Regions from separate parts of the Homo sapiens genome. Here region 2 is linked to region 1. Evidence: fine-mapped expression QTL. A gene starts in region 1. The other region holds a variant in brackets. All regions are shown on one strand. Distances are from middle to middle.

The links. PIP is the estimated chance that this variant, and not a neighbour inherited with it, causes the effect.
Region 2: its variant is fine-mapped to the expression of SPRYD7 in fibroblasts (GTEx, PIP above 0.99). The same link has a PIP of 0.9 or more in lung and stomach.

Annotation. Positions count from the first base shown.
Region 1 is chr13:49,929,838-49,945,657 of GRCh38, reverse strand. SPRYD7 (SPRY domain containing 7) reads left to right here and starts at 9,318. Exons shown (of 5, transcript NM_020456.4): 1 at 9,318-9,528; 2 at 14,524-14,640. The coding sequence starts at 9,423. RefSeq lists enhancers at 8,338-8,387, 9,258-9,507 and a silencer at 8,968-9,217.
Region 2 is chr13:49,849,953-49,865,772 of GRCh38, reverse strand. No RefSeq gene overlaps it. Among named protein-coding and RNA genes, the nearest start is that of KPNA3, 65 kb to the right of the region's middle. The variant A/G (reference allele first, on the strand shown) is at 7,109.

The sequences.
Region 1 (15,820 bases):
TAGTAGAGACAGGGTCTCGCCATGTTGGCCAGGCTGGTCTTGAACTCCTGGCCTCAAGTGATCCACCTGCCTCAGCCTCCCAAAGTGCTGGGATTACAGGCATCCACCACCACATCCAGCTATTTTTTTTTTTTTTGGTATTTTTAATAGAGACAGGGTCTCGCCATGTTGGCCAGGCTGGTCTTGAACTCCTGGCCTCAAGTGATCCACCTGCCTCAGCCTCCCAAAGTGCTGAGATTACAGGTGTGAGCCACCATGCCTGGCTCAGTCAACTGATTTAAATGCTGATCTTTCATTTAAACACTCTCACAGAAATACCCAGAAATAATGTTTACCAGCTATGGGGCATCCCTTAACCCAGTCAAGTTGGCACATAAAACTAACCATCACAAGTACCAAAAGCACAGGTGACAAAAAAAAAACAGATAAATAAATCTCTGTCAAAATTAATGTTTGTGCTTCAAAGGCAAGAAAGTAAAAAAACACCTCATGGAATGGGAGAAAATATTTGCAAATCATTTATCTGATAAGTGGCTTATATCTAGAATATATCAAGACTCTTACAACTCAAGAACAACAAAAACAAAAATATCCCAATTTAAAAATGGACAAAGGATCTGAATAGGTATTGCTCCAAAAAAGATATACAAATCGCCACTAAGCACAGGAAAACATGCTCAGCACTGTGTGTCAATAGGGAAATGCAAATCAAAAAGACAATGAAATAACACTTCATACCTACCAGGATGGCTAAAATAAAAAAGACAGACGATAACAAGTGCTGACAAGAATGTAGAGAAATTAGAACTCTTGTACATTGCTAGTGGGATTGTAAAATGGCGCAGCCACTTTGAAAAAGTTTGTCAGTTCTTCAAACAATAGAGTCATTATTCGATCCAGCAATTTTGCTTCTAGATATACAATGAAGAGAATTTAAAACATATGTTCACTCAAAAACCTTGCAGCATTACTCATAATTGCCAAATAGCAACAACCCAAATGTCCATCAATAAATATATGGATAAACAAAATATGGTATATCCATATGGTAGAATATTATTTAACCATAAAAAGGAATAAAGTATTAGGAAGGAATAGATACTATAACATGGATGAACCCTGAAAACGTCATATTAAGTGAAAGAAGTTAGATAATGAAAAAGACCAAATACTGTACAATTCCAATTATATGAAATGTTCAGAATAGGTAAACCCACAGAGTCAGAAAGTAACTTAGTGGTTTTCAGGGGCTGGAGTAGGGAGGAATGGAAAGTAGCTGCTAGTAATATTAAGTTTATTTTTGGGGCGATGGCAATTGTACAACTCAGTGATATTCTATAAACCAATGGTTCATTCTATAACCATTAAACATATACTTTAAAAGGTTGAATTCTATGATATGTGAATTATATCTCAATAAAACTGTTATTTTTAAAAAATCTGTGGCTGGGCACGGTGGCTCATGCCTGTAATTCCAGCACTTTGGGAGGCTGAGGCAGGAGGATCACTTGAGGCCAGGAGTTAAAGACCAGCCTAGGCAACAAAATGAGACCCCCCCATCTCTACAAAAAATTTAAAAAATTAGCCAGGCGTGGTGGCAGGCACCTTAGTCCCAGCTACTTGGGAGGCTGAGGCAGGATGACAGCTTGAGTCCAGGAGTTCAAAGTTGCAGTGAGTTATGACTGTACCACTGCACTCCAGCCTGGGTGACAAAGTGAGACCCTATCTCTTAAAAAAAAAATTGTTTATAGAATTCCTTTATACGGCAACCTGCCCTAGTGCATTTAACGTGGAAATGTTTTTCTAAGAATTCAGTTTACATACTACTTTCTGGGTTGTGGATGAAATGAGGTGTAATTAGAATGTATTTACTTGACCGGGTGTGTTGGCTCACGCCTGTGATCCCAGCACTTTGGGAGGCCAAGGCGGGTGGATCACGAGGTCAAGAGATCGAGACCATCCTGGCCAACATGGTGAAACCCCGTCTCTACTAAAAATACAAAAATTAGCTGGTCGTGGTGGCATGCACCTGTAGTCTCAGCTACTCAAGAGGCTGAGATGGGAGAATCACTTGAACCTGGGAGGCGGAGGTTGCAGCAAGCCGATATTGGGCCACTGCACTCTAGCCTGGCAACAGAGCAAGACTCCGTCTCAAAAAACAAAACAAAACAAAAAAACATATTTACTTATTTGGGGGGCTTCGTTCATTTGTTGTTTTTATAAATATTTACAGAGTGCTCACTACATAGCAGACATCATTGAATTAAGAACATATAAAATGGAATTTTCCTTTTTTTCCTAAGAAATTGGAAAGATTAAAGTATCTTCCTAACTTCTCTCTTCCTTTCCAAGGCTTCACATATTTTTTTTAAGAATGTATTAAATGTTTGATGTGGACTGATATCTGCATTAGATGTAAGACATGATATCTACAAACAGGAAGTTTACCTACTTAAGAAGGGATGTAAAATAATTCTTAAAGCATTTGGGCCGGGCGCGGTGGCTCACGCCTGTAATCCCAGCACTTTGGGAGGCTGAGGCGGGCGGATCACGAGGTCAGGAGATCGAGATCATCCTGGCTAACACGGTGAAACCCCGTGTCTACTAAAAATAGAAAAAAAAATAGAAAAAAAAAATGGTGGCGGGCGCCTATAGTCCCAGCTACTCGGGAGGCTGAGGCAGGAGAATGGCGTGAACCCGGGAGGCGGAGCTTGTAGTGAGCCGAATCGCGCCACTGCACTCCAACCTGGGCGACAGAGTGAGACTCTGTCTCAAAAAAAAAGGATTTGGTTAAAAGTTTGGAATAGCTAAAAATAAGAAAAAAGTATTTTAATTATACTAAATTCTCTGCAAATCTATTCTGCTACACTAAAGTTCTCTTGGCCATAAACATATCCCTGGAGCTTCTTCTCACTAACTCTTGGTATTTCAAAGTTATTTCACGTTTTTGTTCTTGTTTTACAAATGGGGTCTTGCCACACTGCCTAGGCTGGAGTGCAGTGGCTATTCACAGGTGCCATCATAGCTCACTACAGCTTTGAACCCTTGGGCTCAAGTGATTCTCCCACCTCAGCCTTCCAAGTACCTGGGACTACACACATGTACTATCATACCCAACTCTCATAGGGTTGTTTCTTTTTTTTGTTGTTTTTTGTTTTGAGCATTTTTCGAACAATCCAGAGTTTCATAAACTTTCACCAACAATTTTAAGTAGTCCCACGTTCCCTATGACTCAGGTTACAGAATCTGTAAAGCATAGTGGCTTAGCAGTTGTCCCCAGAACTACACTAATTCTATCCAGCACCATATCTACAACCATAGACACACTTGCTTTAACAGAAGTATAGCAGTTCCTTCTCAACACAAAAGGCAGGTTTCTGACAGTCCCGGGGATATTCATCTGCAGGGCCATTATTGAGAAAATAGGTTTGAAGGGATTGTCACTATAGGTGGAGCCTTTTGAAAAACTTTATAAATATTTTTACATTCACAAAAATAAAATTATAGAGACTAAATGGCATTGTATCTATCCTAAATTAGTAATGTTGGGTACATTTTAATAATCCATGTGACCTTCCTTGTTACTAGAAATATTTTAGGGTCTTTCTCACAATTTCAACAAAATATTTATAATTTTGTTTGGTTGCAGATATTATATATACCCAGAAGTGTTTTTTTCTTCTGTCTGGTCCTTTCTGCAAATGTCGAGTACTTTTTCACTTTATAATCTGGAGATGGTGACTTCTTGCTCCTTGACCCCTACTGTACTTCAAAGACACAGAATCACTTGAATGCTTGAGATGCTTTGGGAAGCTTTTATTTGAACTATTTGGCACAGCTAAGTGTTCTCCAGCCTTTCTCCCATAATACCAGATTATGTAGCCTTATCTTTGGCCATGAAAACTTTGTACACACTTCTCATCAGCCCTTTCTACAAAGTCACAGGTTTAAATGCCCTCCTGTTAATAAGGAGCATAGATCCAAGGACGAACTTTACTTGTCCTCATCTTCCTTTATTTCTTTTGAAAATGCAAAAAACTACTTTGGTTTTGACCTTTGCTTTGTCTCCCTTTTGTATCCTCAGTATCTATTTTCGCTAATTATTGCCACAGTAGTACTTAGAATCTAAATTGGCAAGGAAAAGTACTTAGAAATACACTAGGGTACTTGCATTTCGAGTAAGGGAACTTGAGGTTGGGCAGGGATCACAGAAATCCCCTTGGTTTATGACAGTCTGCTTTATTTTCCATGGAAGGTAAGCAGAATAAGGTACAGTTCTAGGTTGAAAGTTTTTGGTAAATCACATTTTCTATTCTCTGAGACCTTTTTTATGTAGCACTTGCTATTGCTTTTTCTTCATTTTAAATATTAAAAAAATTGTTCTATTTTTATTTCTTTTGTACCTTTTTCAAATTCCTTTATTTTACCCCAGCTTCTTTTTCTTCCTAATGCCAAGTCTCTGCATTTTCCAAGTCTCCAACCTGGTTTACCTGTCTTAGCAATTAAAAGTACTATGTTGACCAGGCTGGTCTCAAACTCCTGACTTCAGGTGATTCGCCCTCCTCAGCCTCCCAAAGTGCGTTTCTACTAAAAATACAAAAATTAGCTGGTTGTGGTGGCGGGCGTCGGTAATCCCAGCTACTCAGGAGGCTGAGGCAGAAGAATCGATTGATCCCAGGAGACAGAGGCTGCAGTGAACTGAGATCGCACCATTGCACTCCAGCCTGGGCGACAAGAGTAAGACTCTGTCTCAAAAAAAAAAAAAAAGTACTAAACAGGCCAGGCAGGGTGGCTCATGCCTATAATCCCAGCGCTTCGGGAGGCCAAGGTGAGTGGATCCCTTGAGCCTAGGAGTTCAAGACCAGCCTGGGCAACATGGTGAAACCCCATCTCTATAAAAAACACAAAAAATTAGCCAGGCGTGGTGGTGCCACTGCACTCCAGTCTGGGCAACAGAGTGAGACCCTGTCTCAAAAAAAGAAAAAGAAGAAAAAAAGTACTAAATATCGTTTTTTTTTTCCGGTAGAGACAGCCTGTTAAGGACAAACCTGCAAAATATTAATATTCAAAGGCACCGCTAAGAGAACCAACTAATGGCAGTCTGTTGCAGTTACAAGGTTGACGTTATTTTCCTTATTTATTTTTGGTTGTTCAATCTAGGTAATATAACTTATAATTCAGGAAATCCAGATTAAATGAGCACAATTCATGCCAAGTAAATTTAAATGTCAGTCTCTGAGGAAAGGGGATAGAAGGAGACAAATACAAATTAGGAATGTATATTCATTTTTTATTTTTTTATTTTTTTTTTGAGATAGAGTCTTGCTCTGTCACCCAGGCTGGAGTGCAATGGCACGATCTTGGTTCACTGCAACCTCCGCCTCTGGGTTCAAGCGATTCTCCTGCCTCAGCCTCCCAAGTAGCTGGGATTACAGGCACACACTGCCATGCCCGGCTAATTTTTTTGTTTGTTTTTAGTAGAGACAGGGTTTCACCATGTTGCCCAGGCTGGTTTCGAACTCCTGAGCTCAGGCAGTCCATATCCCTCGGCCTCCCAAAGTGCTGGGATTACAGGCGTGAACCACCGCACCAGACCTAGGAATGTATTTTTAAATGTAACACCCTAGGAGGCAGTTTGCAGAGTGGTTAAGAACACAGACCCTAGAGCCAGAATGTCTGTTTGAATTTAGCTTCATCCTTCATTGACTGTGCAACTTTTGAGTACATTTCTTATTTTTTCTTCAGCTTCCTCATCTGTAAAGTGGAGGATAGTTTTTCCCTCACATGGTTGTTACAAAGACTAAATTAGTTTATTTTTAAAAAACACTTAGAACAGTGCCTGGCAATAATAAGCACTACATAAATGTCAATCACTATTAGTTACTCAAAATTATAATAATGAATTGGTCAAGGCTCCAGAAATATGTCAGTTTTTAGAAAAATGAGTTTTTGTTAATGTTTCTGATTTTTAAAAAGATCACAAATGTGGTTTGGATTAGTCTAAGGAAAAATGTTTTGTTTAATAACTGATTAATGAGTTTTTAAAAACTCATTTCGTATGACCCAGTACAGAATGGGAAATTCACTAACAGAAGACGTCCAGCTGGCATAAAAAACATTAAAGAAAATCTTAAGCATAATGCTAATCTCAACTCTGAAACACAAGCTTTACATTATTGTTCTCAGTTCTCGAGTTCCTGGCATGTCTTGGAAGCAGACAGACTCTTTTTTTGAAGTAGTCATTCTTTCTTATTGCTTATGACTTAGATAAATGACCTTGAGAAACTATTTTTGGCTTTATTTGTGATTGTTATTTAAAGCGATAGCTGTGAAAGAGTGTCAAAACATCTTTAACGTTGTGCTTTTCAAAAAGAGAGGATAATTCCTTTGAAAGTAATAATGAATGGATATTAGAATCCCAGATATTAGAAGGAAAAGTGAGCTCATGGATGGTGTTAATCTGCCAAGACAGGGAAGTCTGTTTCAGGAGCTAACCAGTTTTGCTAACTTCATTCTGCTGAGCACACTCGAGTTGCTAGGATGGGGGCAAAGTGCACCGGGCAGCGCCCCAGCAAATTACTTTTCCAGCTAGGAAAGACTATGGCCCTTCTGCCTCTCTATAGTAATGTCCAATTCACGGCCATTTAGTGTCTGGCTTTTCATTGAAGATGTGACTGACTTGAATGGCCTAAATGTTTATTACATATATAATACATGTACTTCTTTTAATAATATTTCTGAACAAAATTTTTACTTTATAACAACTAATTCTATTATATTTTGTCTATACATGCATTATGGCAGCTTATATCCAATGTGGAGATAAATGAAACACACAAAAAAGGGCAAATCTGCATTTTGAACTGAGAGCATGTTTAAGAGGATTATAGCATTAATTATAAGAGAAAGAATTTGAGAGGCAGTGTTAAAGCAAACTAAATATGGCCTGAGAAGGACTCTGTACTTCTGTATTTGAGTCCTTGTGTACGAACTGTAACCTAGGTTAATAGGCAGACAAGCTTGAAAACCTAATTTAGGAGTATGCACCTGTAACAATAGCTGAGTCTTGGCCAATCCCAGCGGCCATACTTCAACCAGTCATACACTGCTGATTGTTCAAACTGTGTTCAAATAAGGCAAACGCCCCCCTGTAACCAATGCAGCTGTTTCTGTATCTCACTGCTGATTTCTGTACGTCACTTCCCTCTTTTTGTCTAAAAATTTGTTCTGACCACGAGGCATCCCTGGAGTCTCTCTGAATCTGCTGTGATTCTGGGGGCTGCCCAGTCATTCACTGCTCAGTTTAACTCCTTTAAATTTAGTTCAGCTGAAGTTTTTCTTCTAACAGGAATCAGACTGGTAAGCCTTGAATCCTACCTGTTTATCTCCTGCTCACCTGAAGTTGTAAAGTTTAGTACCTCTAGGCCTATTTCTTCACCTATAAAATGGGGACAATACTGACCTTGAAATCTTGAAATAATTCAACTAGATATATATATATGAACGGTAGAAAAATTTTGTCTCTCCAATATTCTGTTAAAATTCTCACCCCCTGCCCCGCCCCCAGCACTTCCCTGGGGTTAAAAAAAAAAAAAAAAAAAAAAATCAAAGCACTTAATTCCCAGCATAACGATGAAGGTTTGTCATAAAAGAAAATTTCTTGTGTGAAATGATTACCAAGAAAGTACTGCATACGCAATGGGGGAAAAGACCAACCCTCAATCAGTTTAATAATCACCTTGGTTATTAAATTCTATGGTAACTTAATTTCAACGTACAAAACTTTCCCTTAGTATTGTAATGAAAACACCATTTATAGAAAGAGAACCAGGAACCTGAAAAATTCCCCTCATTGCATAGATAGAAATCCTCCTTAAAAAACATTTATAACTCGGGTCACTAAAAGTTACGTATGGGAAATCATTATTTAAGTAGTGGGCATTTTATGTCCAGTTTCCCAGGACTTGATGATCCATCCCTAGGGAAGCCTTCAGGATGAAACTGATCTGGGAACAGAGGTTTGAGCTAGGTTAATTCTAGAGGTCGTCCCAGACATTTCCAGATGCCAAGCGGTATCTTTTTTTTTTTTTTTTTTTTTTTGGAGACAGAGTCTCTGTTGCCCAGGCTGGAGGGCAGTGGCGCGATCTAGGCTCACTGTAACCTCCGCCTCCCGGGTTTAAGCGATTCTCGTGCCACAACCTCCTGAGTGGCTGGGATTACAGGCGTGCACCACCGCACCCAGCTAATTTTTGTATTTTTAGTAGAGACGGGGTTTCACCATGTTGGCCATCCTGGTCTTGAACTCCTGACCTCAGGTGATCCGCCCACCTCAGCCTCCCAAAGTGCTGGGATTACAGGCGTGAGCCACTGCACCCGGCCTGAAGATGTAAAATCTACCACGGAAGGATGATCTAAGTGGGGAAGGAGATGACAGGTGACAGCCTCCCGTGTGGAAGCAGAAAGTAGCGGACGGTAGGAGCCGAAGGCTTCCCTCGGGACCCAGCAGACTTCCCGCAGCCTCCTGGGTTCCCGTCACATTCCTCGGAACCCTCAGTGCACCAGACAGGGGGAGCTTGGAAGAGGCAGGTCAAGAATCGCCCCCGACCCCGCCCCAGCGTTCTGCTCCCAGGGCGGCCTCCCACGCGCCCCGGACCACGCAGCCCGATGGGCCAGGTAGGGCGCGTCTCTGCACCGAAAATGCATTAGGGCCCGCGTGAGCCCCGGTGAACATCCACAGTGCAGTCACTAACAGGCATTACTCCTGGGGCCCACGTGAGTCTATTTAGCATGTGAGGGAAACCAGCCACGGCAGGGAGACTGGGGCTCTCCGTGGTGGCAAAGCCTGCTCAACCTGGGCCCGCGGAGGGAAAACTCGGAAGTCATTTCCATTAGCTCCCCTTCCCCCAAACTGATTCGCTTCTGTCAATCCATCCCTAGAAATAATGTCGAGGCCGGGACCAAGGGGTGCTGCGTTTTAAAAATTCTGCATAGGAAAACCCCTGGAAGTACTGAGGGACAGACAGCCCCACTCACCTGTCAGCCCTGGGGGCGTGCGCGAAACCGCCCAAGGAGAAAAAACCAGCTGGTGCGCAGGCGCACGCCGTCCCACATCCGCAGGCCCGCAACGCCACGCCCCCTGCCACGCCTCCGCGCGCCACTAGCCCCACCCGTCTCCCCGGCCCAGCCCGGCCGCTCGCCCTGTCCGGTCTCTCCCCGGCCCCTTGATTCTCCGCGTCTTCCTCGCAGGCCAGCCTAAGCTCAGCCTGCATTGCGCCCTCCCGGCCTAGGGTGTCGCTGTACCGGCCTCCGAGCTCCACATAGACAAGTCCGGACCTCGGGCGGGGGCAGGAGACGGAGCTGAGCGGCGGGGGGCAGTGTCGCCTCGGTCTAGGGACGGCGGCGGAGTCGGTGGTCCCTGCGCGATGGCCACCTCGGTGTTGTGCTGCCTGCGGTGCTGCAGAGACGGGGGGACTGGCCACATCCCTCTGAAGGAGATGCCGGCCGTGCAGCTGGACACGCAGCACATGGGTAAGGGCCCTCCCTTCCCCAGACCCAACGGCTCACGGGGGCCGGGCGCGGCGGGCAGGGGGACCTTCAGGGTCAGAGGGTCCCCACGCTGCCCCGCCGCGCCGGCGACGCTGCGCCGACACCATTTCGTCTCGCAGATCTCTCCAGAAGCCGGCGGACTCCACCTGGGCCCGGTTCTGTGTTCAAGGCTGCGCAGCCCTCTCTGTGTCTGTCATCGCGAATGGGCGTGTGGACCTCCCATTTTCACAGGAATCTCGGAGGCTTCCTCCGGAGATGTCACACGTCCTCGGGCGAGGGGGCGGAGAGTGCCCTTCTGGCGCGCCCCAGTGAAAACCTACACATTTTCAGAATGCTTCTAGGTCCGGTCTTGCTCCTCCTCCTGCCCTGACTGTCGGTCCTGTCTCTTGAGCCCCATCATTTATAGGTTGAATCCTATATTATTGGAAGTAATTTTCCTCTCACCTCCTAAAGTCGAAACAAGGCAGACTGCAGAAGTCTGAAGTCGCACCTCAGGTCAGAACTTGCCATTTCAACTAAAACCTCCCATTGCCCGACTCCTTAGTCATTGTGAGAGGTACTGTAATTTCATCTGACTGGCCTCTTCCCAACAGGTCTAACTGTTGAAAAATAAAATAGCACTTTGCTCCTTTGCATCTTGCTTTATCCTTTTAATTCCAAATCCATATAATTTATCTAACATTCTTCCTCTCCCATCATAGCCTCTTTCACCACCTTATTATTTCTTAGACTTTTCCCAGGTAGTTTCATGCTTCTGGAATGTGGTTCTAGAAGGAGAGATTTCCCAATATAATTATTTCAGTTAGAGTACTGTCTTTTTGTGGATTATTTTATTCTAACTGTACTTCTGCACTTTTGATTTTTTACACGTTTCTGATTGTTTAAAGGACAGTGCATTGAAATAAAAAGGCACTTCTTAATATTTATGATAAAACTCTCTCGCCCAGTTTCCTTATAATTCTGGAAACACTCTGCCCACTGTATTTTTGTATAACACATACTAAATGTGATAACTATATAATCACCTTGTATGTGTGTATTTACTTTTAATTCTCAGATCTCCCAAATGTAGTACAGAACCTTAATACATAAGTAATCTTTAAATTATTTTTTATCCATCATTATTTATAGACGATGGAGTTCAAATTCTATAGTTTTCCTCAGAAAATATTTCCATTTCAGTTACTCATTTACTGAAGTGATATTTATTAAGCAATTATCAGGTGGCAGGCATTGTTATAAGTGCTGAGAATATAGTGAAGGACAACCATACATAATTCCTGGAACTCATGATCAACTGCAGCACTTCTTCCTATCTTTACTGTTAGACTCTTGAATTACTGCAGTCTCCTCTTTGGAGCATTCCTTTTCTCTGTCATCTGTTTCCTCTAGGAAGAGCTGGTCAGATATACTCATTCCACTGTGTTTTATTTCTCCAAAGCTGTCCAGCAACTGTCAGCTACTAACTGGATGAAATAGAGTAATGTCATCTCCAAATTTTCTAACTGCATGGAAGTTTTTTCTTCTTCTTTTCTTTTTTTTTTTTTTTTTTTTTTGAGACGGAGTTTCACTATTGTTGCCCAGGCTGGAGTGCTGTGGCACAATCTCCACTCACTGCAACCTCCGCCTCCCGGGTTCAAGCAATTCTTCTGCCTCAGCCTCTTGAGTAGCTGGGATTACAGGCGCCCACCATCAAGCCCGGCTAATTTTTGTATTTTTAGTAGAGACAGAGTTTCACCATGTTGGTCAGGCTGGTCTCGAACTGACCTCGTGATCTGCCTGCCTCTCAGCCTCCCAAAGTGCTGGGATTATAGGGGTGAGCCACCACGCCCGGCCAGGAAGTTTTTTCTTAGCCTGTCTTTCTATAAACTTAAATTATTCAATCACAGAGGAGCCTGATTTGAGAACCTGAATAAAATGAAAGAAAAGGGTTGTTGAGTTAGAAGAACATGTTTCAAGCATGAATTGATCTTGACTTGAAAATAGAAACACATGGATTTGGTGGTGTGAAAGATTATTATATTAAATAACCTAAAAAATGTGATTGCTTTTTTTTTTTTAACAAAATTGTCTGTATACTTCAAGTGATTCTCCGAGGGTTGTCACTTATTTTAGTGATGTTGTATTACTTAAAACCACTTTGGAATTCCTCTTTTGGAATTTTCTATGGCATAATTTTTGTAAGTATTATCATTGATGCCATATCTTTGGCTTTTAATTGTGAATCGACATTTTAGAAACAAATGACTTCCAAGGCAGCTACTTTGAAAGGGACACCGCTCATTTGGAAATTTATGTTTCTTAAAACATCCTCTGTGGCTATGTTTATGTGGCATTCTGGCTGTACTCAAATTTGCCTTGACCGTCTAAGCAGCACCAATCATTAAAAGTACAGATTCTAAAACCGTCTGTGTACTTAAGAGAAATGGGATAAGCTTAAAATGATTCCCTAATGACTCATAAACACCCTGAATATTCTTTCTTTCTTTTTTTTTCTTTTTTTTTTTTTTGAGAGGGAATCTCGCTCTGTCGCCCAGGCTGGAGTGCAGTGGCCTGATCTCAGCTCACTGCAACCTCCGCCTCCTGGGTTCAATTAATTCTCCTGTCTCAGCCTCCTGAGTAGCTGGGACTATAGGCGCCCACCACCATGCCTGGCTAATTTTTGTATTTTTAGTAGAGATGGGGGTTTCACCATGTTGGCCAGGCTGGTCTTGAACTCCTGACCTCAAGTAATCTGCCTGCCTCAGCCTCCCAAAGAGCTGGGATTACAGGTGTTAGCCACCTCGCCTGGCCAAGAGTGTTATATCCCATTGTGCTCTGCAAAAGTCCTGAGATTCTGATTGTAGTTGATTAGGTCATGTAGCAGTTCTTGACTCAGTTACTGTGGCCAAGAAATGTGGAGGGCACTGATTGCCTTAACCTAGATCAAATGTTGTACACCTGAAGCAGAGATTGAGTCAGCTTTCTTGGAACTGTTTTGATCTCCAGAGGGAAGTCTGTCGGGAGAGGGAGAACAGATACTGCATGTCCACTACAAAGTGCTTAGCACAGCATATTAATTCAACCTTTATCAGTTATTTGATGAGCAGCTGCTCAATGCCAAGCACTGCATGGTCTTTGCCATCAAGGAGGATGCTCTCCAGTTGAAATTACTGGAGGTATATGGAGTAGCCAGATGCAAATTATTTATAAAGGTACTTTCCCAGAATTTGGGGGTTAACTTTTTTAATTAGAAAAAAAAAGATGTTAATGAATTTTTAGTAATCATACAATAGGATCTCAGTTTTGCCTTGTTTAAGGGAGAGCATCTCTTAACCAGTTTAGAATTGTGTTAGAATCTGAAAATTTTGCATTTCTTTTATGTATTTGTACCAAATAATTTTGTTTAACTGTTAATTCAACCTTTTGTTACTATGACCTAATTTTATTTAACCCCTTCTGGAAGAGTCCCATACAGTTCGAATATTCAGATCTGCTTGGCTGGTACAGTTATTGCCAGCAAAGTGGTGGTAGTGGCCACAAGTATGGGGAGTTATGCATTGGTGTATGGGCTATTTCTTACATATTAGAATTATGTAATTCTGTGTATTCTTACATGTTAGAATTATGTATATTCTCTGATAGACATTTTCCTAAATCAAATTGGTACTAGGATCACATCAGGAGACAGTGTCTCTCTTTCTCACTCTCATCTATAGATGTCGTTTCATCTAAAAAATTTTCTACGAGAATAAAGTGCATGTAAGAATGTTAAAACCTTGTTTACATATTTGCAATGTGATTGAAGTAGCTATCTTAATAAACATTTTAAGATCCTAAAGTTAGCAGTTTGTCACTGTCAGGTATTTCAACATAGATGTGTGTTCTTTTTCATATTCCCTGTACTCTTCAGTTCTTACATGACTAATGCACAAGTATAGTAGCTTGTATTTAGTAGGCATTCAGGTGGCTTTTAGTAAATTGTTTTAATTCATTTGAATAGAATTGAAAACTACCAATTTACTAAAGTCTCTTGTGTTTATGTTTTGGTTTAAATTAAGAAATTTATGAAATCATCAAATTGGTTTCCTGGCTAAAAATTAAAAGAGTTAGTCTATTTCTACCTTAAAAGTGTTTTGAACGTTCAATATAATTCAGAGTTATTGCAGTTTACTTGAAACTGCTTAATTAAAACTTACTTCTCTCGCCCAGGCTAGAGTGCAGTGGTGCAATCTCAGTTCACTGCAACCTCTGCCTCCCAGGCTCAAGTGATCCTCCCACCTCGGCCTCCCAAGTAGCTGGGACTACAGGCTTGTGCCACCACACCAGCTAATTTTTGTATTTTTTATAGAGATGGGGTTTTGCAAGGTTGCCCAGGCTGGTCTCGACTTCCTGCACTCAAGCAGTCTGCCCACCTCGGCCTCCCAAAGTGCTGGGATTACAGGTACGAACCACTGTACCCAGCATGCTTAATTAAAACTTATACATACAAATGAATATTACTTATAAATGTTCTCTTAGGAAAAAATAGTGAATTAAATATTTAAAATAATTCAGCTATATTTCAAAGTACTTACAGTGTCCCTATTTTTTGTGGACTGAGTTAGAACTGAACAAATTAATCCTGATTGTTGGATTGAAAATAGAAAACTTGGCCAGGCGCGGTGCTTCACGCCTGTAATCCCAGAACTTTGGGAGGCCAAGGTGGGCGGATCACGAGGTCAGGAATTCAAGACCAGCCTGACCAATATGGTGAAACCCCCATCTCTACTAAAAATATAAAAATTTAGCCAGGTGTGGTGGTGCACACCTGTAGTCCCAGCTACTCGGGAGGCTGAGGCAGGAGAATCACTTGAACCCAGGAGGCAGAGGTTGCAGTGAGCCAAGACCGTGCCACTGCACTCCAGCCTGGGTGACAGAGCAAGACTCCGTCTCAAAAAAGAAAAGAAAAGAAAAGAAAATACAAAACTTTACATAGTGTCTGCATTTTTTGTTTAGGAACAGATGTTGTTATTGTAAAGAATGGAAGAAGAATATGTGGAACAGGAGGTTGTTTAGCCAGCGCACCTTTACATCAAAACAAAAGCTATTTTGAATTCAAAATCCAGTCCACAGGTTGGTATAATGGTACTTTACTATTAAAAGTCCTAATTGTTCTAAATATTAAGAGTAATTTGTAACACATAAAAAAGATTCAGAAGGTAATATAAAAGCACCAAACTCTTAGAAGATCTGGGTCTTCCACCTCTTGTTGTGTGATCCTGGGTAAATTAGTTAATTTAGTTAAATTAGGTTCAGTTTTCTCATCTATAAAATGGGTATTACAGGAGCTGCCCATTCTGCCTCACAGGAACTCTATGTATGAAAGTGTTTTAAGACAAGACATGCTGCATAAATATAAGGCACTAGTATTTTTAATGGGATCCGGATGAACCCTCTTGTTTGGTCAAGCATATAAGGTCAAACATATAAGCAGCATATACTCTTGCTATTTATTTTAGGATTAAAGTCAATCTGTTGATTCTGAGTTTTTCTTTTTTTTTTTCTTTTTTGAGATGGAGTCTTGCTCTGTCACCCAGGCTGGAGTGCAGTGGCGCGGTCTTGACTCACGGCAACCTCCGCCTCCCGGGTTCAAGCAATTCTCTTGCCTCAGCCTCTTGAGTAGCTGGGATTACAGGCATGCACCACCATGCCCAGCTAATTTTTATATTTTCAGTAGAGACAGAGGTTTCACCATGTTGGTCAGGCTGATCTCAAACTCCTGATCTTGTGATCTGCCCTCGTCGGCCTCCCAAAGTGTTGGGATTACAGGCATGAGCCAGAGTTTTTCTCTTAACTCAGTTATTAAGATACCCTGATTCAGTGTTTTGAAGCAGTCATCAAATTCAGAATTCAGATAGAAGTCTGCAGTCTATATTTCTCTTTTTAAAATTTATGGAGTTTCTTGAACTGTAAAGCAATTCTATGTGATTATAATAGGTTAGTTAACTGTGCCTGTATTGTATATGGGAAAACTTTTAAAATAAAAGCTTTACTGTAAAGTGATCGGGCATAGTGGCTCACACCTGTAATCCCAACACTTTGGGAGGCCGAGGTGGGCAGATCACCTGAGGTCAGGAGTTCAAGACCAGCCTGGCCAACATGGCGAAACCCCATCTCTACTAAAGATACAAAAATCATCCAGGCATCGTGGTGGGCACCTGTAGTCCCAGTTACTCGGGAGGCTAAGGCAGGAGAATTGCCTGAACCCGGAAGACAGAGGCTGCAGTGAGCTGAGATTATGCCACTGCACTGC
Region 2 (15,820 bases), 80 kb after region 1:
GGCTATTCCCAGTTTAGTTATGTTACAAATAAAGCTGCTATGAACATTGGCACACAAGTCTTTGTGTGGACGTATGTTTTCATTTCTCAGGATAAATACTAGGAGTGGAAGGGCTGGATCATGCAGTAGGTGTACATTTAGCTCTTACCAAACTGCCAAACTGTTTTCCAACATTTAACCATTTAATATTTACACCAGAAGTGTATGAGAGTCCCAGTTCTTCCATGTCCCTGCCATAGCTAATCATGGTCAGTCTTTTTAATTTTCACAGTTTCTGTGTGTGGTTTCAGTTTGCATTTTCCCAATGACTGATGACGTTGAGATTTTTTCATGTACTTGTTTGCCATTTGTGTATCTTCTTTGGTGGAGTGTTTGTTCAAATTTTTTCCCCATTATTAGGTTGTTGTTCTCTTACTGTTGAGTTTTGAGTGTTCTTTATGTAGTCTGAATTCAAGTGTTTTATCACATATATGCTTTACAAAGTACTTTTCAATGTCAAAAAAATCTTAAGGACCATGATAATAATTGTGATCTCACTATCTTTGTAGTTGAGAAAATTTATTTTATTTTATTTTATTTTTGATACAGAGTCTCGCTCTGTCACCCAGGCTGGAGTGCAGTGGTGCTACCTCAGCTCACTGCAAGCTCCGCCTCCTAGGCTCACGCCATTCTCCTGCCTCAGCCTCCCAAGTAGCTGGGACTACAGGCACTCACCACCACACCCAGCTAATTTTTTGTATTTTTAGTAGAGACAGGGTTTCACTGTGTTAGCCAGGATGCTCTCGATCTCCTGACCTCGTGATCCACCCACCTTGGCCTCCCAAAGTGCTGGGATTATAGGTGTGAGCCACCGCTCCTGGCCAAAGAAAATCAATTTTTAAAAGGTCTTCAGTGATTTAATAATCTTTCTAAATTAATCTCTAATATATCCACCACAGCAGCATGTATCTCCCTCTTAAGGTGTCTCAGTCCATTTTTGTGCTGCTATAACAACATGTGAGACTGGGTCATTTACAATAAACAGGAACTTATTAGCTCACAGTTCTGGAGGCTGAGAAGTCCAGTGTCAAAGTGCTGGCATCTGGTGAGGGCCTTCTTGTTGCATCATCACATGACAAAAGGCAGAAGGGCAAGAGAGGACAAAAGAGGGTCAAACTCTCCCTTTTATAACAACATCAATCCACTCATGAAGATGGAGCCTTCATAGTCTTATCACTTCTTAAAAGTTCTACCTCTTGATACTGTTATAATGGCAAATAAATTTTAACATGAGTTTTGCAGGGGACTAGCACTCAAACCATAGCAGGAGGTAATCCAACATGGTGATTAAGGACCAGCGTTGATCAGAAGAAAAAAAAGTCACACATAGCCATTTATAAGCTGTTAACACTACATATCAGGAAGGTGCTCAACCCCCAAGCACCTAAAGCACTGCTTCATCACTAGTGGTTTCTTGGAGAGAAATTGCCAGGACACACGTCGTCGGGTCTGGTTGCCACCCTCACCCTGAGTGTATCTTCAGGCTGAATCCAGTCCAGCCTCCATCCTGTTTTCCAGTCACCCCCAACCTACCTGTCTTTGTGTTGCCATGTCTGTCCTCCAATATGATGCAAGCACTGCCTCTCCCACACCTCGCTGTGTTCTCAGAAGCTCCTCTCTGTGATCTTAAACTCTCCCACATCCTCCATCTCTTCTCCTGCCCTACCTGAAACATGGCTGTCCCCAAGGCCACTGTGGCATTATTAGGCAGTGTCCTCATGGCCTGCAGTTGCAGTTTCCAATTCCTATTCCCTCCTCCAAAATCCTCAGCTCTTCTGAAGGTCAGGTCATCTAACTCCCTTGACCTCCTCCTTGAAGCTGTGAGCTACTTCTTGGCGATGCCCCTCCATGCAGGAGAGACTTGCACTTAGCTTCCTGCTTTTCCCCTCCTCCCCAACTCCTGCCATGTCATTTTTACCCATTTTTGTGACCTCAGCATTGATTGGTTGGAACCACCTAACGCCATGTAGTTGAACCATTCAATGCTCTGGCTTCTTAGGTCTTTAACAGATGTGTCCTCAATGATCTTTTTCACCATTCCACCTCAGCTACACACTCACACGGTCACTTCCTTGGGATCAACAGAAATGAACGCATTTGTGAAATCTTTATTTAAGCATCCTACCCTCTGACCACTACCTCTTTCCTTTCAATTCACTTACTCAAGTGCGTCCACTACCATACTTCTTCAACCTTTTCAAAATCTTCAACCCAGTGGCCCACCCCACCATGGCTTGACATTCATCAGCTCCTATATGACTTCATTCTCCTCCTCGTCTTGCCTAGATTTCATGGGCTAAAGTTTAAATTGAAGTAAAACATGCTTGTAGAAAAGTGTAGAAAAGTAACAGCTCAGAAGAATGAGGAGCAATTGCTTGATGGGTATGGGTGGGGTTCCCTTTTGGGGTGAGGAAAATATCTTGGGACTAGACAGAGGTGGTGGTTGCACAACGTTGTGAATACACTAAATCCCACTGAATTGTCCACTTTAAAATGGCTGATAGTCAATTACATGTTATGTGGGTTTTACCTAAATTTTTTTTTAAAAGTTGGCCGGGCGCAGTGGCTCACGCCTGTAATCCCAGCATTTTGAGAGCCCGAGGCTGGTGGATCACAGGGTCAAGAGATTGATACCATCCTGGCCAACATGGTGAAACCCCGTCTCTACTAAAAATACAAAAAAATTAGCTGGGTGTGGTGGCGTACGCCTGTAATCCCAGCTACTCAGGAGGCTGAGGCAGGAGAATCACTTGAACCCAGGAGGCAGAGGTTGCAGTGAGCCCACATCAAGCCACTGCACTCCAGCCTGGCGATAGAGCGAGACTCAGTCTCAAAAAAAAAAAAAGTAAACAGTTTGATTAATTACCACACAGTGAATACACATATTTAATCACCACATAGTTTAGAAAATAGAACCTTACCAGCACCCCAGAAAACTTCTTGAGGCTACTTCCACTTGCACCCTTCTATATTGCCCAAAGGCAACCACTATTTTGTGTCTGGATTCTTTTGTCCAATGTTTATGAAATTCATCCATGCTATACATAAATCGTAGTTCATTCATTTTCAGTGTTGTAAATATTCTTTTCTTTTTTTAGATTAAGGCAGTTACTTCATTTTGAACAAGGAAGTAGCATAAGCAACTCAGTGTGTGCCCCTTAAGATGGGAGCTCTTCCCCCATATCACTCCCCACTCCAAGGAATAATTTTGGGAGAAAAAAATGTCTTCTATCTGGCTACCTGTGATACCTATGATTGCACCTTCTTATATGGCGGGCACGTCATCACGTCCAGACGAGCATCTAAGGAACTGCATTTTGGGAGTTGAAACTTTCATTTGGGTCTGAGATGAATGCATGAACTAACACAGGGCCATGGACCCACTAGTCTTGATCAAGTTAGAGAAAATGAAGGTGACTATTTACACTTCCAAGTTGCTTTCTAGATCCTTTCATTAAAAAATGTTCTGATCAGGCCGGGCGCTGTGGCTCATGCCTATAATCCCAGCACTTCAGAAGGCCGAGGCAGGTGGATCATGAGGCCGGGAGATCAAGACCATCCTGGCTAACACAGTGAAACCCCGTCTCTACTAAAAATACAAAAAGAAAAAAATTAGCTGGGCATGGTGGCAAGCACCTGTAGTCCCAGCTACTCGGGAGGCTGAGGCAGGAGAATGGCGTGAACCCAGGAGGCAGAGCTTGCAGTGAGCAAGATAACAGGATTAAGAGATTAAAGTTTAAAGAGATTAAAGACAGACATAAGAAATTATAATAGTATTATTTGGGAACTGATAAATGTCCATATTAAGAAGAAATCTCCACAATTTATGTTCCTCTGCCGTAGCTCCAGTCAGTCTCTCCATTCAGGGTCCCTGACTTCCCGCAACACCAAGTAAGCTTTTCTTTTCTTTTCTTTTCTTTTCTTTCTTTCTCTTTTTTATCCCCTCTCTCTCTCTTTCTCTTTCAGATGGGGTCTTGCTTTGTTGCCCAGGTTGGGGTACAGTGGCACAATCACAGCTCACTGCAGCCTCAACCTCCCTGGCTCAAGCAATCCTCCCTCCTCAGCCTCCCAAGTAGCTGAGACTATGGGCACACACCACCATGCCCAGCTAATTTTTGTATTTTTTGTAGAGACAGGGTCTCATCATGTTGCCCAGGCTGGTCTTGAACTTCTGGGCTCAAGCAATCCTTCCTCGGCCTCCCAGAGTGCTGGGATTACAGGTGTGAGCCACTGTGCCTGGCCTAAACTTCTTTTCTTTATGAGTGACCCAATCTGTGGTCCTTTGTTATAGCAGCAGAAAAAAAAAAAATGACAGGTACTATGGGGGAAAATGGACAAGGAAGATCCTCTCATATGGGCGAGAGGGTGGTTATTTTGGCTGACCAAGGAACTCAGCATACTTCTGGAAAATGAGAAAAGGTGATATGGTTCATGCTGTTGACTCACACCAGTATTTGTTGCTTCCCCGCTCCCATTTTCACAACTTTATTGAAGTATAATTTTGAATAATAAACTGCATATATTTGAAGTTCACTATTTGATAAGTTTTGGTAAACATATGTAACTATGAAACCATCTCCACAAACAAGATGCTGAACATTTCCATTGCCATTGAAGGTTTTCTCATACCTGTCTGCAGTTCATTGCACTTTTTAACCTGTCCCCAGGCAACCACTGATCTGCAGTCTAGCTACATAAGTTAGTTTTTATTTTCAAGAATTTCATATAAGTGAAATAATACAATATATATCTTTGTTTGGTTTCTTTCAGTCAACAGATTACTTTGAGATTTAATGAAAATCAGTTTTGATTTTGCTCAAGTGATCCTCCCACCTCAGCCTTCCAAATAGCTACGACTATAGGCACGCACAACCCTGCCTGGCTAATTTTTAAAATTTTTTCTAGAGGTGGGGTCTTGCTCTGTTGCGTAGGATGGTCTCGAAATCCTGAGCTCAAGTGATCCTCCTGCCTTGGCCTTCCAAAGTGCTGGGATTATAGGCGTAAGCCACCACACCTAGCTGACTTTCATTTTCTTAACTGACTTTCAAAGAGAAATGTTTTAAATGTTGATGAAGCCCAACTGATTACCTATTTCTTTTTCTTTTTTTTCTTTTTTTTTTTTTTAGATGGAATTTTCTTCTGTGGCCCAGGCTGGAGTTCAGTGGTGTGATCTCGGCTCACTGCAACCTCCACCTCCCAGCTTCAGGCAATTCTCCTGCCTCAGCCTCCTGAGTAGCTGGAATTACAGGCATGTGCCACCATGCCCGGCTAATTTTTTTTTAGTAGAGATGGGGTTTCACCATGTTGGCCAGGCTGGTCTCGAATTCCTGACCTCAGGTGGTCAGCCCACCTTGGCCTCCCAAAGTGCTGGGATTACACATGTTAGCCACCATGCCAAGCCCCATCTATTTCTTTTATATCTTCTTTTGTGTTCTACTTAAGAAAACTTTGCTTATGCCAGGGTCCCACAGATTTTGTCCTATATTTTTTCTAGTAGATTTATAATTCTAGGTTTACATTTAGATCTATGATCCATTTTAGATTTTTTTTTTTTTTTTTTTTTTTTGAGATGGTGTCTCCCTCTGTAGCCCAGGCTGGAGTGCAGTGGTGCAATCTTGGCTCACTGCAACCTCCGCCTCCCGGGTCCCAGTTCAAGCAATTATCCTGCCTCAGCCTCCCAAGTGGCTGGGATTACATGCACATGCCACCATCCCCAGCTAATTTTTGTATTTTTAGAGAGACAGGGTTTCACCATGTTGGCCAGGCTGGTCTTAAACTCCTGACCTTGTGATCTGCCCACCTGTGCCTCCCAAAGTGCTCGGATTAGAGGCATGGGCCACCGCGCCCCGACATTTTAGATTAATTTTTTCGTAGGGTCTGAGGTCAAACTCCTGGCTTCAAGCAATCAATCCTCTTGCTTCAGCCTCCTGACTCACTGGGATGGCATGGGCCACTGTGCCTGGCTCCCAGCCTCCTCTTTAATCAAGGAGCTTTGGCTCTGTGAATTGACTTAGATCTCAACACAAGAGGCCATGACTGTCCACTGCAGTGACTCATCAGGTTTTTAGCTACCAGACCTAGAATTTTTCCCTCTGTTACAGATCAAGCAATACAATGGTAGATTGCCCATCTATTTCATTCCTAAGAACACCATAACTTAACCACCATCAAATATGTCTGCAGGCCAAAGCATTCTGATTGCCCTTTACAGTGGATGCATTTACTTTGTCCTTGGAGATTCAGTGCCACCCCTACCTATGCCACTCTGAGATCCCATCATCCCATCATTGAAATTGGGGAGACCATGTCAATGGCATATTTTCCACCTACCCTATAGAAGAGAGCAACCACAGAGCTCTCCTTTGAAAGAGGTTGCAGGTGCTCCATTTATTAATGCATTTCTCAATGCTTTAGTGAGGGAGATGTCTTCTGGGTTTTCTCATGGGACATTGTTTGGAGGTAGGACTGAACAATGACATGATGAGAACAGTAAGGTAATGTTTTATACCATATTCTGGGCTCTGTTCATGATTACTTTTTTCTGATAATAAGGACTGTTTCAATATTTTAGACATTTTAGAACATGACAGAAGATTACAGAAAGATATTAGGGTATTTTATGATTTGAAGTCTCACAAGGGACAGAAACCAGGGAAGTCTCCAGGTTCCTCAGCTGCATTTATTTGTGTATCTTCTTTTGAGGATTCTGCCATTATTATGACAGATTTTCCGTTCTTAGTTTTGGGTCTCTCCCTTCCAATTCTGGCAGGAGAAAAGCCCAATTTCTTTTTCTCTTATTTTATCAACATTCTTGGAGCCTTTACTGATAAAGGCAAAATTCAGTACAAAGCATACTTTTAACTGGCCTATTTAACAAGTATTTTAAAGAGCAAAAATCTTTCCTATCAACTTCCACAAAGGTGTCCAAAGTCATCCTTTTAAATTGGAAAGAGTTCTTAGGGAATTACGCAATGGTATGTACAAACCTGAACAGGCTGTACTCATGAGGACAAATATGTGATTTATCTAAGCATAGTAAATACTTCAGAGTTTAGTTTTCAGGGTTGGA[A/G]TGTCTACTGTAAACAGTAGCAATGACTATCTCTATAGCAAAATTTCCAAGCATAAGAAGAAATCAAGTTTTTCAAGAGAACATTTGCTCAGTAATACCTTTGCTCTTTTATTTATAGGGTAAAAGAGGGAAGAAATATGAGAAACATGCTTATAATACTTTTTTCTTCCCATATCCTTTTCCTTACCATAAAAAAAAGTTCTGTGGACTGGAATTAAAGATCAATGATGTATCACTGAAGCCATGAAGTCCTGCAAGTTTACATCATGATGATTCAGTGCTCCTGGATTAGCAAACCTTCCTCTCTGTGCATAAGCATCCCTCAACAATCCCAGGCCCCCGTGTCAGTACTGCTTCTGAACAACTCGCTAGTAAGCCCTTGAAAGAATGCAAACCTCTTTAATGTAGTCAAATGAAACAGATTTGTGCTCTGTCAACTCAGTCTTGACTTTTGCCTCCAGATTGTGGATTACTTGAGATGCCTGAAATATATTGTTTTTAAAACTGAAAGGTAGCTCCATCATTTCAAAAGCAGATAGTAGAGATGTTTACCAAGAAAAACATAGCCAAGGCCGGGCGCGGTGGCTCACGCCTGTAATCCCAGCACTTTGGGGGGCCGAGGTGGGCAGATCACGAGGTCAGGAGATCGAGACCATCCTGGATAACACGGTGAAATCCCATTTCTACTAAAAATACAAAAAACTAGCCGGGCGTGTTGGCGGACGCCTGTAGTCCCAGCTACTCGGGAGGCTGAGGCAGGAGAATGGCGTGAACCCAGGAGGCGGAGCTTGCAGTGAGCCAAGATCGCGCCACTGCACTCCAGCCTGGGTGACAGAGCGAAACTCCGTCTCAAAAAAAAAAAAAAAAAAAAGAAGAAGAAAAACATAGCCAAAACATTACATTCCAGCCCATGGGCAGTGAAGATTAGATTTTCCTGTTATCTTCCACCTGTTTTTGTTGTTGCTGTGGCTTTTTGGCTTGTTTGTTTTCATCCCTGCTGTAATCCCTGATTAACTCTTATTTTTTCAGGTTGTTGTTTCATGTATTTTGGCCACCACTTCCTGCCAAAACTATCTAATATCTGTACATCTCTAGAGGGTTCTAGCAACTATGCTGTCCTTTTTTATAGGAACTGATTCTTTTTTCTTTTTCCCACCCATTGAGCTGATTCTACTTGAACTCAATGAACTTTTGGTCTCTGTGCTTCTTTATTTTAATTAATTGAGCTTTCTATCTAAATTGGCACACTAAATCCTGAACAATCCAGAGCTGCATGTTTGGTCTAGATTGGTTAGCCACACTGCAGGTCATAGAGTTAGCGTGGAAAAAATATTCCAATTTCCAGACCCTTGTGAAAATCAGAATTAGCCAGAAGCACCAGTTTGTAGAATCATGGACAAATCTGGGAAAGCCCAACAATTTGGGGGATGTTTAGCCCCAGATGCACAGGATTGGATTAGAATTAGTTCTAATCTACCAGATGCGTTGGCACACACCTGTAATCCCAGCACTTTGAGAGGCCAAGGCGGGTGGATCACCTGAGGTCAGGAGTTCAAGACCAGCCTGGCCAACATAGTGAAACCCCATCTCTACTAAAAATACAAAAATTAGCTGGGTGTGGTGGCAGGCACCAGTAATCATAGCTACTTGGGAGGCTGAGGCAGGAGAATCACTTGAACCCAGGAGGCGGAGGTTACAGTGAGCCAAGATCGCGGCATTGCACTCCAGCCTGGGCAACAAGAGTGAAACTCTGTCTCAAGACAAAAAAAAAAAAGAATTAGTTCTAATCCTATTTATGGCATACTTTCCTCTGTGGTCCTTAAGTGGCCTCCTCCATTAAATATTGTTATGTTAATATACATATAAACATAGCTGTAGACATAGATAAATACTCATGAACCCACCATCTCAAGCAAAAACTAAGACCTTGACAACAACCTACATCTAACCATATGGTTGCTTTTCCCATCGTGTCCCTCTGCCTTTGTCTACTCAAGGTAGCCATATTGCTGAATTCCATGTTAACAATTTCCTTGCCTTTAAGTCACCATAGTGTTTGCAAAAAAATAAAAAAACAATTTCCTTGCCTTCCATTTCATATAGTTGAATTGCACGTATTTGCATTCATAAAAAGGAACTATTATCTTGGTCATAAATTTTATTAAAAATGCATTGCAGAATATGTAAACTCTTTAGATTCATTTATTATTATTATATTGTTAAGATTCCTCATATTTTTGTGTGTTGTTATGTGGGAGTTCAATCAGGCTGGTGGGAAAAATATTAAAGATAGTTATAAAAATAAACACAAACTTTCTTGGAAGGCCTGAAGGTTTTTACAGAAGTCTCAGGATAAGACAATGGCTGAAGGCAACCTAATCCTTACCTTGAGTAAAAAGCTTCAAGTGGGTAAGGAAGAAGGCAGAGTAGTGTATCTAGCTAGGTTGTTTAAGACTAACCTTTGATCTACCACCGGTGCTTAATTACTTTCTACAGGAAGTCCACAATGTCAATTACCCTCTGGTGGTGTTGACTCAAGCCTTTGTCAATTCATCTTTACTAAATAAATGCGAGTCTCACTAGTTGGTCAGGGCCATGGTCGTGACTGTTTACAGCACTCTGCTTGGAGTCTGTAAGTGGCCCAGACACTCAGCTGGACTGGCATAGCAGAATATCTGTGTGTCAGTGTACTTCATTCATCCATCGTTTGGGTCAGGGTCTGCAGATAGACCCCCTCATTGCTATAGTTCATTCATGTTGACTGCTGAATAACATTCCATTGCGTGGATTTACTACAATTTATTTATTCTGTCTTTTATAGTTAGGCTTTTAGGTTCTTTGCAGGTTTTTGCTGTTGTGAACTGAAATCCTGTGAACTTCCTTATGCAGTCACTTGTACACATGAAATGGTTTATGTTGGGTCTATACCTAGGAGTAGAATTGTTGGGTCATTGAGTATGTGTATTAGTTTCATAGAGCTGCTCTAACAAATTACCATAAACTGGGTGCCTCAAAAAAACAGAAATGTGTTATCTCACAGTAAGTGTCCTCAGGGCTGGTTCCCTATGGGAGCCTCTGAGGGAAAATCTGTCCCATGTCTCTCTCGGCTTCTGATGGTTGCCAGCATCCCTGGACACCCCGTGGCTTGTAGATGCATCACTCCAATTTCTATCTCTGTCTTTACATGGTCTTCTCCTCTGTGTGTTTCTGTCTCTGTCTCTCCTCTTCTTCTTTTTTTTTTTTTTGAGATGAAGTCTCACTCTTGTCCCCCAGGCTGGAGTGCAATGGTGCAATCTCAGCTCACTGCAACCTCCGCCTCCCAGTTTCAAGCAATTCTCCTGCCTCAGCCTCCCAAGTAGCTGGGATTACAGGCGTCCGCCACCACACCTGGCAAATTTTTGTATTTTTAGTAGAGATGGGGTTTCACCATGTTGGCCAGGCTGGTCTTGAACTCCTAACCTCAGGTGATCCACCCACCTCAGCCTCCCGAAGTGCTAAGATTACAGGCATGAGACCCGTGCCTGGCCTCTTCTTTTCTTATAAGGATGCCAGTCCTATTGAATTTAGGGCCCAGTATGACATCATTATAACCTAGCTACTCACATCTGCAAAGTTCAAATAAGATCACATTGAAGGTTCCAGGAGTTAGAATTTTAACATTTTATTCTAGGGGACAAAATTCAACCCATAATAGTATATGAATGCCCAAATTTAGGAGAAAATGTCAAACTTTTCCAAAGTAGTTATACAATTTTACATTCTCACCAGCATTGATAAGATTTGGTGTTATCAGACCATTCAAATTTTTACCAGATGAATGAGTATAAAATTGTGTGCCATTGTAGCCTCAATTTTTTTTTTTTTTTTTTTTGAGACGGAATCTCGCTCTGTTGCCCAGGCTGGAGTGCAGTGGCGCCACCTCAGCTCACTGCAAGCTCCGCCTCCCGGGTTCACACCATTCTCCTGCCTCAGCCTCCTGAGTAGCTGGGACTACAGGTGCGTGCCACCACACCCAGCTAATTTTTTTGTATTTTTAGTAGAATCGGGGTTTCACCATGTTAGCCAGGATGGTCTCAATCTCCTGACCTCGTGATCCGCCCACCTAGGCCTCCCAAAGTGCTGGGATTATAGGTGTGAGCCACCACACCCGGACTGTAGTCTCAATTTATACTTCCCAATTACTAATTATGTTAAACATCTCTTCATATGTTTATTGATCATGTGTTTTCTCTTCTGTGAAAACAGTTCTTTTTTTGGCCCATTTTCCTATTGGGCTGCTTATGTGTTTTTTCTTTTACTGATTTGCAGAAGTTCTTTATGATACCAGTCCTTTGCCAGTTTTATGTGTTTTGAATATCTTCTATATATAACTTTTTACTTTCTCTAACAAAGCAACATTTATCAATCTTTTTCTTTTATCACCAACTGGAGTGCAGTGGCATGATCATGGCTCACTGCAACTTCCCCAGGCTCAGATGATCCTCTCATGTTAGCCTTCCAAGTAGCTGGGACTACAGGCATGCACCACTACACCTGGCTAAGTTTTGCATTTTTTTTTTTTTTCAGAGATGGGGTTCTCGCCATGTTGCCCAGGCTGGTCTCAAACTCCTGAACTCAAGTGATCTACCTGCCTCAACCTCCCAGAGTGCTGGGATGACAGGGGTGAGCCATCACCCTGGGCCACCTTTTGCTTTATTAAATGCATACATGCTATGTATCTTTTTGCCTTTAAGTCCATTTTATCTAATATTGCTGTAGATAAACCAGCTTTATTTTGATTAGTATTTTACTGATATCTTTTTTATTCATTTACTTAGAGTCTTTGCAATTCCTTATGCTTTAGTTTTATCTCTTGTTAATAGCACATACCTGAATTTTTGTTATATCACATTTTTCCATCTTTGTCTTTAACTGATGAGTTTAGTTCATTTATATTTATTGTAATTATTTATTCGGACCTGTTTCTACCACTTTATTTTTTTTCAGTCTGACTCACTTTTTCTATATATATTATTAACCATTTCTTTAAATTGGTAACTATCTCTTCCCCCATAAGAACAAAACTTTATACACTCATCTCTTCATCTCTGTGCCCCCAATCCACATCATGTTATTATCTACACTTTGATGCCAGATTATTGTGTCTATGAGTTCTCTTTTTCTTTAGTCTTGGCTATTCTTTTAAGTCAAAGAAATTTTACCGGTGTACTTGGTCATCTTTACTTTACATATCTCTGGCAGTATCTACTAGATTTACTCTCCCTTTATTTAAGCCTTTCATCTAAAATAGTTTTCAGCATAGCCTTTGTGTGGTAAATCTTCTGAGAACTTCTGTGCCTGATAATATTTTTTTTTATCATGCCCTTATCTTTGAATGGCCAACTGGATATAAAAATAGAGGATGGGCAGGGCATGGTGGCTCACGCCTGTAATCCCAGCATTTTGGGAGGCCAAGGCAGGTGGATCACCTGAGGTCAGGAGTTCGAGACCAGCCTGGCCAACATGGTGAAACCCCATCTCTACTAAAATTACAAAAATTAGTCGGGCCTGGTGGCACACACCTGTGGTCCCATTTACTTGGGAGGCTAATCCAGGAGAATTGCTTGAACTCAGGAGGTGGAGGTTGCAGTGAGTGGAGATTGCACCACCAGGCTCCAGCCTGGGCAACAGAGCGAGACTCTTATCTCAAAAAAATAAATAGGCCAGGCGCAGTGGCTCACACCTGTAATCCCAGCACTTTGGGAGGCCGAGGTGGGAGGATCACGAAGTCAAGAGATCAAGACCATTCTAGTCAATATAGTGAAACCCTGTCTCTACTAAAAATACAAAAATCAGCTGGTCGTGGTGGTGCACACCTGTAGTCTCAGCTACTCAGGAGGCTGAGGCAGCAGAATTGCTTAAACCCAAGAGGCAGAGGTTGCAGTGAGCCAAGATCGTGCCGCTGCACTCCAGCCTGGCAACAGAGCGAGACACTGTCTCAAAAATAAATAAATAAATAAATAAATAAATAAATAAATAAATAAATAAAATTGAGGATGGTTTCTTTGCCTTTATTATTTTGAGAATACCATACCATTCCTCCACCATTTTTTTCTTTTCTTTTTTCTTTTTTTTTTTCCCTTTTTCTTTCTCTTATTTTTTTTTTTTAGAAATGGAGTCTCATGCTATTGCCCAGGCTGGAATGCAATACTATAATCATAGCTCTCTACAGCCGCAAACTCCTGGGCTCAAGAGATCCTCCCACCTGAGCATCCTGAGTAAGCTAGGCCTATAGGAGTGCACTATTGTGCCCGGCTAATTTAAAATATTTTTTTAGAGATGGGGTCTCACTATGTTGCTCAGGCTGGTCTCAAACTCCTAGTCTCAAGCAATCTTCCCATCTCACCCTCTGGAGTAGCTGGGATTACAGGTGTGAGCCACTATGCCCAGCTCATTCCACTGTTTTCTTACATCAGTTGTTGCTGTTAAAAAATCTGATGTCAGGCCGGGCCTGGTGGCTCACGCCTGTAATCCCAGCACTTTGGGAGGCCAAGGTGGGCAGATCACCTGAGGCCAGCAGTTCAAGACCAGCCTGACCAATATGGTGAAACCCTGTCTCTACTAAAAATACAAAAAAAAATTAGCCAGGCATGGTGGCAGGTGCCTGTAGTCCCAGCTGCTCAGGAGGCTGAGACAGGAGAATTGCTTGAACCTGGCAAGTGGAGGTTGCAGTGAGCAGAGATTGTGCCACTGAACTCCAGCCTGGGTGACAGAGTGAGACTCTGTCTCAAAAAAAAAAAAAAATCTGATGTCAATCTGACTTCAGTCCTCTTTTTGTGATGTTCTCTTTCTCTTTATAATCTTTTAGAATTTTCCTTGAATTCTTTTTTTTGTTGTTGTTGGGTTTTTTTGTTTGTTTGTTTGAGATGATGTCTTGTTCTGTCACCCAGGCTGGAATGCAGTGGTGAAATCACAGTTTACTGCAGCCCCACCCTCCTGGGCTCAAATGATCCTCCCACCTCAGCCTTTTGAGTAGCTGAGACTACAGGCATGCATCACCATGCCTAATTTTTAAAACTTTTTGTAGAGATGGGATCTCACTTTGTTGCCTATGCTGGTCTTGAACTCCTGGGCTCAAGTGATCCTCCTGCCTCAGCCTCCCAAAGTGCTGGGATTAAAGGTGTGAGCCACCATGTCCAGCCTTGAAATTCTTAATTTTACTATAAAATGTTCTGGTGTGGATTTTTTCTTATCTTTTTTCTATAACCTTTTTTATCTTTCTTTCATCTTTTTACAGTTATGGAAGATTATCTCATTTTTCTTCAAACATTTCTTTCTGTTCATTTTTCTTCTTTCTAGAATTCTTATTACCTAGATGTTAGTACTTCTGTCTTCCACATAACCTAGTTTTTTCTTTATATTTTATACGTCTTTGTTATTTTCTTATCTCTTCTGAAAGATTTCCTCCGCCTGGTCTTCCAAGTTGACAATTAGTTTTGCAGCTCTATCCATTTTGTTGTTTATCCATGTGATGTGTTCACTTCAACTATGATATTTTACTTATCTAATATTGCTTTTTTATGTTTTCTTGTTCTTATCTACATTGTCATTATCTTCTTTTATCTCTTTTTGTATATTTATTAGGCCAATATCACATTATCTATGCAACTGTTTTTATATATATAGTTGGATTCTGTAATCTAAAATGCTATGTTTCATTTCACATAGTTGTGATTCTGAAATCTGCTACTTTGACCTGTGAATTCATGTTTTCCTGAAGGTATATGCTCCTTTTCTGGGGAACACATATAGGGAAAGGCCAGTCCTAATTAGCTCATTCCCAGTCAGCCCCAGTTAGCTCTGAGGGTGAGAATGGATGAAGCCCAAGGGGGAGAAACAAGCCAGGGCACAAGGAAACCACTGTCATTTACTCTCCACCTCACAACACAATGGGGTCAGAGCTTCACTCTGCCTTCCAGGGCACTCAGCATTCGGAGGAGACCTTGTTGGACTGTCATGTGCCAGCTCTGGGGGTTTGGTGGGAAGGGGAACTGATACCCCAAGGTAATTCGTCCTCACCTCATGCACAACTATTAAATTTAAGGTTGTGAATGTGATTTGATGCCCTTATGTGGTATCACTGGAAGGCAAATCCCTGGATGATTATCCATCATTGGGCACTATTTGCACTAATATTCTCCCCCAGTGGGTACCATGAAATCCTCCTTTTCCAGAAACATCACTTTTTCAAGAGTTCCCCTATTCCAATCCCATCCCTTTGCACTTCTTCCCTTGTGATTCTTCTCCCTCCTTTTCTTCTTCAGATATTTGTTAAGGGCCTAATGTGTGTCATGTACTAGGCTGTGAGTCTGACATGTGTGAAGAGCAGATGTGCTTGAAGAATAAGAAAAATAGGCCTGTTGTGGTGGCTCACGCCTGTAATCCCAGCACTTTGTGGGGCTGAGGCAGGCGGATCACGAGGTCAGGAGTTTGAGACCAGCCTGGTCAATATAGTGAAACCCATGTCTACTAAAAATACAAAAATTAGCCAGGTGTGGTGGCAGGCGCCTGTAATCCCAGCTGCTCAGGAGGCTGAGGCAGAAGACTCACTTTAACCCAGGAGGCAGAGGTTGCAGTGAGCCAAGATCATGCCACTGCACTCCGGCCTGGGCAAAAGAGCGAGACTCCATCTCAAAAAAAAAAAAAAAAGAATAAGAAAAATAGAAACCGAAA